2 linked regions of the Homo sapiens genome follow. The protein of the gene in region 1 purifies or fractionates together with the protein of each later gene. This does not show direct contact. Each region holds a gene or a part of one and is shown in the gene's direction. Other genes may lie near its edges.

Evidence for each region.
Region 2: the proteins of ACP7 (region 1) and MYCBP2 purify together in Homo sapiens (affinity purification with mass spectrometry; 2 studies listed by BioGRID and IntAct, with this or other methods). This does not show direct contact.

Annotation. Positions count from the first base shown.
Region 1 is NC_000019.10:39,108,366-39,112,282, forward strand, and holds the end of ACP7 (acid phosphatase type 7 isoform 1 precursor), read left to right. Parts: intron 1-1,687; coding exon 1,688-1,753; 3' UTR 1,754-3,128; downstream 3,129-3,917.
Region 2 is NC_000013.11:77,320,178-77,324,094, reverse strand, and holds part of MYCBP2 (E3 ubiquitin-protein ligase MYCBP2), read left to right. Parts: intron 1-3,917. UniProt on the Homo sapiens protein: Atypical E3 ubiquitin-protein ligase which specifically mediates ubiquitination of threonine and serine residues on target proteins, instead of ubiquitinating lysine residues.

The DNA of each region.
Region 1 (3,917 bases):
CCTGACATCAGGTGATCTGCCTGCCTCAACCTCCCAAAGTGCTGGGATTACAGGTGTGAGCCACTGTGCTGGGCCCACTTATCTAACTTCTTTGCCTCAGTTTTCCCATCTGTGAGAGGGGATAATCATAGTTTCCACCTCACAGGACTACATGGGGGTTGAAGGACTTATTATATATAAAATGCTTAGAAGAGTGCGGAACTTGGTAAATTCTGTAGGTATTTACCATTGTGAGGCAGGGGAAGATAAAGATGGGGGGTGGGACACAGGTAGGGGAAAACAATAAGATGAGTATGTGGTACAGGTGGCTTAAGGTTAGGTGGATCCAAATAATAATGGCTCACCTTTCTTTATTTTTGCCATTGTAGTTTTAAAATAATGACAATATTTATGATTTATTGAGCACCTACTGCATACCAGGCACTGCCTAGATGCTCTGCATTTAGTAGCACTTTATTTATTTATTTGTTTTTGAGACAGAGTTTCACCCTGTCGCCCAGGCTAGAGTGCAGTGGTGCAATCTAAGCTCACTGCAACCTCCACCTCCCAGGTTCAAGCAATTCTCCTGCCTCAGCCTCCCGAGTAGCTGGGATTACAGGCACATGCCACCACACCCGGCTAATTTTTTGTATTTTTAGTAGAGATGGGGTTTCACCATGTTAGCCAGGCTGGTCTTGAACTCCTGACCTCAGGTGATCCACCCACCTGGGCCTCCCAAAGTGCTGGGATTACAGGCATGAGCCACCGCATGCGGCCCCAGTAGCACTTTATACACCAAAACAATCCCACAGGAGTGGATTTCCTCTCCATTTTATAGGTGAGGGAACTGAGGCTCAGAGAGGGGAAGTAATTTTCCCAGGGTCACACAGTTGGAGGACGGCCAAGCTGGGATCTGATAGCTACCATTTATCGAGTGGCACATGCACCGGGCGCAGACTTTTGTGTGCATGATCTCACTCTGTTCTCATGATGACTCTGGGCATCTATTACTTTGTGCATTGCATAGAACATGGAAGTTTTGCTCAGAGAGTCCAGCAACATGCTTAAGGCCACCTAGAGGGTGGATGCGCTGGCCAGGTGCAGCAGCTCATGCCTTTGGGAGGCTGAGGCAGGCGGATCACTTGAGGTCAGGAGTTCGAGACCAGCCTGGCCAACATGGTGAAACCTTGTCTCTAGTAAAAATACAAAAATTAGCCAGGCATGGTGGTGCATGCCTGTAATCCCAGCTACTTGGGAGGCTGGGGCAGGAGAATGGCTTGAACCTGGGAAGCGGAGGTTGCCACTGCACTCCAGCCTGGGTGACAGAGCAAGACTCTGTCTAAAAAAAAAAAAAAAAAAAAAAAAGGAGAGAGAGAGAAAGAGTGGATGTGCTGGAATATAAAGCAAGGTCTGTCTGACTCCAGAGTTTGTGCTCTAATAATAGCCTACACTTACATAGCCCTTTCCATATGCTGGGCTCTGTTTACAAATACTATCTCATTTAACTCCCACAACATCTATGATGTGGGTACTGTTACTCTTCCTATCACTTTTCAGATGAGGAAAACTGAGGCCCAGAGAGGCCTAGCCACTTGCTCAGGGTTGTACAGCCCATCAGAGGGCAGAGAGGGGACTGGAACCCAGGCCATGTGGCCCCAGAGTTCAGGCTTTCAGCTCTAACTACTGTCCCTGTTTTTGTCCCTCACAGGATGGGAAGATCGTAGATGATGTCTGGGTGGTGAGACCCCTGTTTGGCCGGAGGATGTACCTCTAGGGATGGCGGCAGCTCTCCTCCAGAAGCCTAGGTTTTGCCGCCTTGGCTGCTGTGACCAGAAACTGCCCAGGCCTGGGTGGGGAGTTGGGTGGGCCCTGACTCCCCTGCCCTCCAGAGGCCCCATGTAGGGTACATGCAGCCCTATGGAGCTGGGGCAGCTGTTCCCTCCTGGAGAGGTGGGAGTCCTGGCTGGCTGTGGAGGGAGGGCAGGTGTGCGGGCACAGAGTGACACACGGCAGGTTTCTGCTGGCAGGGCCCCACCCTCCTGCATAGCTCTGATCGGGCGAGGTGCCCACGGGGCTTCAGGAATGAAGAGGCTTAAGCTCTGGCTCCATGGATTCTGCACATCTGCGGGGGATGCCGCTGGGCTTCCTCCTCTCCTGCCCACCTGGCAAGGGCATCGCCAGGTGGGCACAACCGTCATGACACTACTCACCAGCAGGTGGCGTCAGGGGCTTTTTCTTCTGAGCCCGGCACTGAGAGTTGGTCTGAAGCCTGGCTCCTTCTTCACTGCTCCAGGACTGCTATGAAGAGTCCCTTCATGCCTCAGTTTCCCAGCCTGGCACCATCTTATTCGGGAAGAGGAGACGTGTTAACACTCTTGCCTCCTAGCTAGGACAGATGACAAACCGCAAGAGCCACAGACTTGCCAGTTCCTTCCCTCTTTCCTTCCTTTCTTTCCCTTCTTTTATTTATTGAATCATAATTTATTGAGCATCTACCATGTGCCAGGCTCTGTTCTCAGTGCTGGAGAGACAGCTGTGAATGAGACAGAGATCTCGGCCCTCACAGAGCTGACATCCTAACCAGAGAGTTGGACAAAAATCACGATAAATGAGTTGGTTAAATAGCGATTTGTGAGTAGAAAACGCAGGGACGGTGAGAGAGCAGTTTCAATTTTCAGGGGGATCTCACTGAGAGGGCAACATTTGATCTGAAGGAGGTGGGGAAGGAGCCAAGTGGGCAGACATCTGGGGGAAGAGCATTCCAGGCAGAGGAACAGCCAGTGCAAAGGCCCTGAGACAGAAATGTGCCTGGCCGGCTGGGTACAGTAACTCACATCTGTAGTCCCAGCACTTTGGGAGGCCGAGGCGGGCAGATCACTTGAGCCCAGGAGTTTGAGACCAGCCTGGGCAACACAGCGAAACCCTTTCTCTACCAAAAATATGAAATTTAGCTGGGCATGGTGGTGTGTGCCTGTAGTCCCAGCTGCTCAGGAGGCTGAGGCGGGAGGATGGCTTGAGCCCAGGAGGTTGAGGCTGCAGTGAGCCATGATTGCGCCACTGCACCCCAGCCTGGGCAACAGAGCAAGACCCTGTCTCAAAAAATATATATAAATAAAAAAGTTTTAAAAAGAGAAAAATAAACAAAGAAACGTGCCTGCCCTGTTGGAGTGTCCACGAGGAGGCCACTGTGGCTGGAGCAGGGAGAGTGAGAGGGAGACCAAGCTTGAGGACAGGGCAGTGGTGGGGATGGCTTGTATGGAGCCTTACAGGCCACGGTGAGGACTTTGGGTGGAGCCAGGGGAGGCTCTGAGCAGGTGAAGGAAGTGATCGGACTCCACGAGTCACAGGCAAAGGCCCCAGGGCTGACAGCTGCCCCAGGGCCTGCGGGCTCCCAGCCCTGCCAGATGACCTGAGATCTATCTATTCCCCCGTCATGGGGCGCGGTTTCTGCCTCCACAGATTTCATTCCCTCCCACCCGCCCCTCACTTGGCCCAAGGCACGCAGGACTCCTTGCCGTTCCTGGAACACAGCCAGCTCTTTCTCACTGCGGGGCCTGGGCGCTGGCTGTCTGCCCCCTGTGTGCCCTCTCCCCAGCTCATCCCAGGCTGGCGCCTTCTCAACCTCAGGTCTCAGACTCGGTGTCCCCTCCTCAGAGGCCTTCCCTGCTGACCCCAGCTAAAGTAGCCTGTGTTGCTGCCTGCCCCACCCCCGTTTTACTTCGATCTGCAATTCTTTCCTTGATTGGTTAACTTGTTCATTGGCTGTTTACACCCGTAAAGCTAAGTCTGTGAGGGTGGTGACCATGAGTTCAACGCCTCTGCCAAATCCTCCCAGGCCCCTTCTTGGGCTGGATTGGGGACTCTGGGCTCCCCGCTAGTTCCAGTCCTGCGCATTCTAGGCCATCACCGTTTGGGGATGGGTCTCTCTGACTCCCCCA
Region 2 (3,917 bases), on another chromosome or scaffold:
TTTTGGTAACTCAAGGGGATTTCAAAGTTGAGGGAAGGATATTCAAGTATAGGAGGTTGGGTGGGATATGCAAATATGGGAGGCTAAATGGAGAGACAGAGTGAAGAAGTGAGAGAGGGGATAATTGATAGGAAAAGGTCAAAGGGATCTCAGGGACAGGAAGAGGTCAAAGGGATCTCAGGGATAGAGTTAAGGTGACAGGTGGAGAGGTTAGCCATTGAAAAAAGGAGCAGTTAATATAGAAGGGGTGGAGGTGAGTACTTGTAAATATAAAGACTGGGAGTTTATTGAGGATAGGCATCATATCCTATTCGTTTTGATAATCCCAATGTCTAGCACATTTTTTGGCATGAATTCTGTAAACATCAAGTGCCTGCTCTGTGCCAGGCAGTATTGCAGATGCTGAAGATGTAGCGGTGAGCAAGATAGACAAAGTCTCTGCCGTCTTGGAAAATCCACTCCAATGGGAGAAATAGACAACTCATAATTTCACTTAGTAATAAGTAACTGTGAAGGCAATAAAACCTATTTCATGTGATAGGGCAATTTGTAGTGGGGCTATTTTAGGTAACATGGTCAGGAAATGTCTCTTTGAGAGTTGGCATTTAAATTGAATTGCCATGATGAGGAGGCAGATGTAGAGGAAGAATGTTCTGGGAATTTATAAAGGCCTTGAAATGGGAACAGGCTTGTGTTCAAGAAACAAAAACATGATGAGTGAGTTATCAGTCAATGTCAAATGAATTAATTACTCTTTGCTTTAGGTGTACAGTTGAGAAGTTGAGAGTTTCAAACCTAATGGACTCAGTGACTTTGATGACAGTCTAACAAAGTGGTTAAGAGCTTGGGCACAGAAGCTAGACTGGTTTTGCATCCTGGTTTTGTCATTTGCTAGCTGTGTAACTTTGAGTATATTACATAACTTCTATGCCTCAGTTTTTTAAATATGTAGAATGGGGATCATAATACTAACATGAATTGTTTTGTAGATTAAATGAATCAATGTATGTGCTTGGCATGTTGACTGCTATGAAATATTAGTTACTGTTTTTTGTCTGTTTGTTTTTGCTGAGAATGAGGGGTGTGGGGACTTGAAGAGAAGGCAAGGATCATGTCTTACTCTTTTATTTTTGGTCTCAGTGACTGTGTAGAATGTGGGAATAACTCTTTCATTTATCCAGTGACTGAATAGATATATTTTTGGATGAATGAGGCCAATCAAAATCGGAACATTCTGTTGGGGAAAGGGGTTGGACAGGAAATGTATGAAGGAATGTATGATCTGTTCTGAATGTGAATGGTGGTATAACCATGCACTTGGGAGGCACCATAGCACAGTGGCTAAATGTTAGAGCACTGGAGGTAGACTCCCTTAGTTCACGTCTACCTTTTTCTACTTGTGTTAAATTGGGCAAGTTAATTAGACTTTGTCTGTTTCTTTACTTGTAACTTTGTAGTGTTATCAAAAGGACATTATGTCCGCACCTGGTAAGTGCCCATGAAATGTTACCTGTTGTTATTATTAAAATCACATTTAAAATTCCAACCAGCATGGCACTGTATGTTTTTCCACACAAAATAGAAATGGAGAAAACCTAGTTGAGTTGATTTAGGGTTAAAGAAAAAAGAAATGGAAGGTTTTGGGGACAGTGTTTGACTATATGGTAAAAAGGAAAGTGATGCCAAGAGGGAACTGATAGACTGGAAGATAAAGAGGAGTCAGAGTATCTGGGTCCTGAAGTCCTAGAAGAACAATGTTAGTGAAAACAATAGAGGGGATTGTGACCAAAATGGGGAATCTAAACTTAACCCCCTTAGTTTTTTCAGCTGCTTTATCTCTTTCTTGTTAGAAATGGTATTTGAGTCCATCCTTCAGATGCATGGGATTTTGGTTGTAAGAGGTTAAGTAGTCATTTTAGCAAAAGTTCAGGGATTATTTTATTTTACTTATTTTGAGGCAGGCTGGAGTGCAATGGTGTGAACATAGCTCACTGCAGCCTCAACCTCTTGGGCTCAAGTGATCTTCCTGCCTCAGTCTCCTCCAGTAGCTGGGACTACAGGCATGCACCACCATGCCTGGCTTGTTTTTTATTTTTTGTAGACACAGGGTCTCACCATGTTGTCCAGGCTGGTCTTGAACTCCTGAGCTTAAGTGATCCTCCCACCTCCACCTCCCAAAGTGCTGGGATTATGGGTGTGAGCCACCATGCTCAGCTTGCTCAGGGATTATTACTTGGCACTAACCATTGGCCCTATAAAAATTTATAAGACACAAATTCTAGACTTGAGTTTACTGTCTATCTGGAAGTGCAAGATACAAAGGCAGATACTTATAGAAGTGTTAAATGAAATGACCAAGAAAGTATAACCTACTATGACAAAGGCATGGCATTCTAGGCTGGCTTAAAAGCATCAGCAGAGACAGGAAAGCACAGTTTGTATGTAGGTAACAGTAGGAATTCTGTTAGAGCTAGAATGCAGGTGTCATGAAGGACAGTAGTGGAATTCATTCTGGAAATGGAGGCTTTGGCTAGGATGGGGCATCTTGAAGACCAAGGTAAGAATTAGATTTTATTCAGTAGACACTGATCACCCTTGATGGTTTTAAGCTATGAAGAGACGTTATTTATTGTAGGAATATGTCAGGAAGTAATGCGGGATTGAATCTGTATGTGTACATCTGTATTTGTGCATAGGTAGTAATTTTCTTCATGTAGCTGTTATATCAGTGGAATCCTGTATAGTGTATAAACACAAGTTAAGGCAAAAACTGCTCTATTGGTATACTGGTAGGTAGAAATGTGAAATGAATTAGTTTCCTAACTCAAGAGAAGAAAAAAATCTTGCCTCTGGGCTTAAAAGGAAAATAAAAATGTCAATCTAAAAATACTTTTGTCCTTTAATATATTTGTTTAAAAAATCAACAGAATAGTCTCACTTTTTTCTCAAAAACCAGATTAAACATTTAGGTTTTCTGAGGAGGGGTTAGGTTAATTGAGGTTTAATTTATATACAATAAAATTCATCCTCTTTAAATGTTCATTTGAAGAGTCCTGAAACTATCACCACAGTCAAGTATAGACTGTTTCCATCACTTCATATAAAAAGTTCTGTCAGGCCCTCCTACCCCTGGTTACTGACCGCTGCAAATCAGTTTTCTGTCACTAATATTTTACCTTTTCTAGAATGTCATATAAATCTAGCTCCTTAAGGGCAGGGCCCCCAGGTATTGTTCATCTTTCTGTCTTGTATCTGTATTTCCTGTAAGTGGAAGCTAGACCTTAAGGGTTTATTAGGTGTTCATTAGAAAATTTTTTAGCAAGAATATTGTATATGGCGCTGGGTACTGCATGTTGCATCCCATCCAGAGGTTGTGAGGTTGTCTCACTATTTAATATGTTAAATCTGATTACTTGGGTAAGACGGTACCTACTAGATTTCATCTCTGTAAATGTATGCTTTTTCCATTTGTAAAGAACAAGTAATCACAGGGTAAAAATTTGAGCACATTGTGAATGCCTTTTACCTAATGCTTTTAGCATTCTTTGATAATCCTTGTCTGAGTCAATAATTTCATTAGGGGTTGCAAAATGATGAATTAAAAAATAATTCTGTTATTTCTTCTATGTTTATTAGCTGGTACTCTTCTGCAAAGAAGAGTTGGCCTTCACTGACTGTCAGTGAAATGTAGTTTCTCCTAATCCAGCAGCATAAATGCTTAATTCTCTTCCCTCATTAGCCAAATTGGTGTAATAGTCCAGTGGTGGTGTGGCAGGTGCTGTGGTTAGGCTTTCAGATCCCGCTTTCAGGCACATGTTCCCCTAGCTCTTGGCAATATTGGCAGCTAAAACTGATTGCAGCTGAGTCCCACTCCACGCATTGCCCTGAGCCAAGAGTTGCCTCCCCCAGAGTCATGC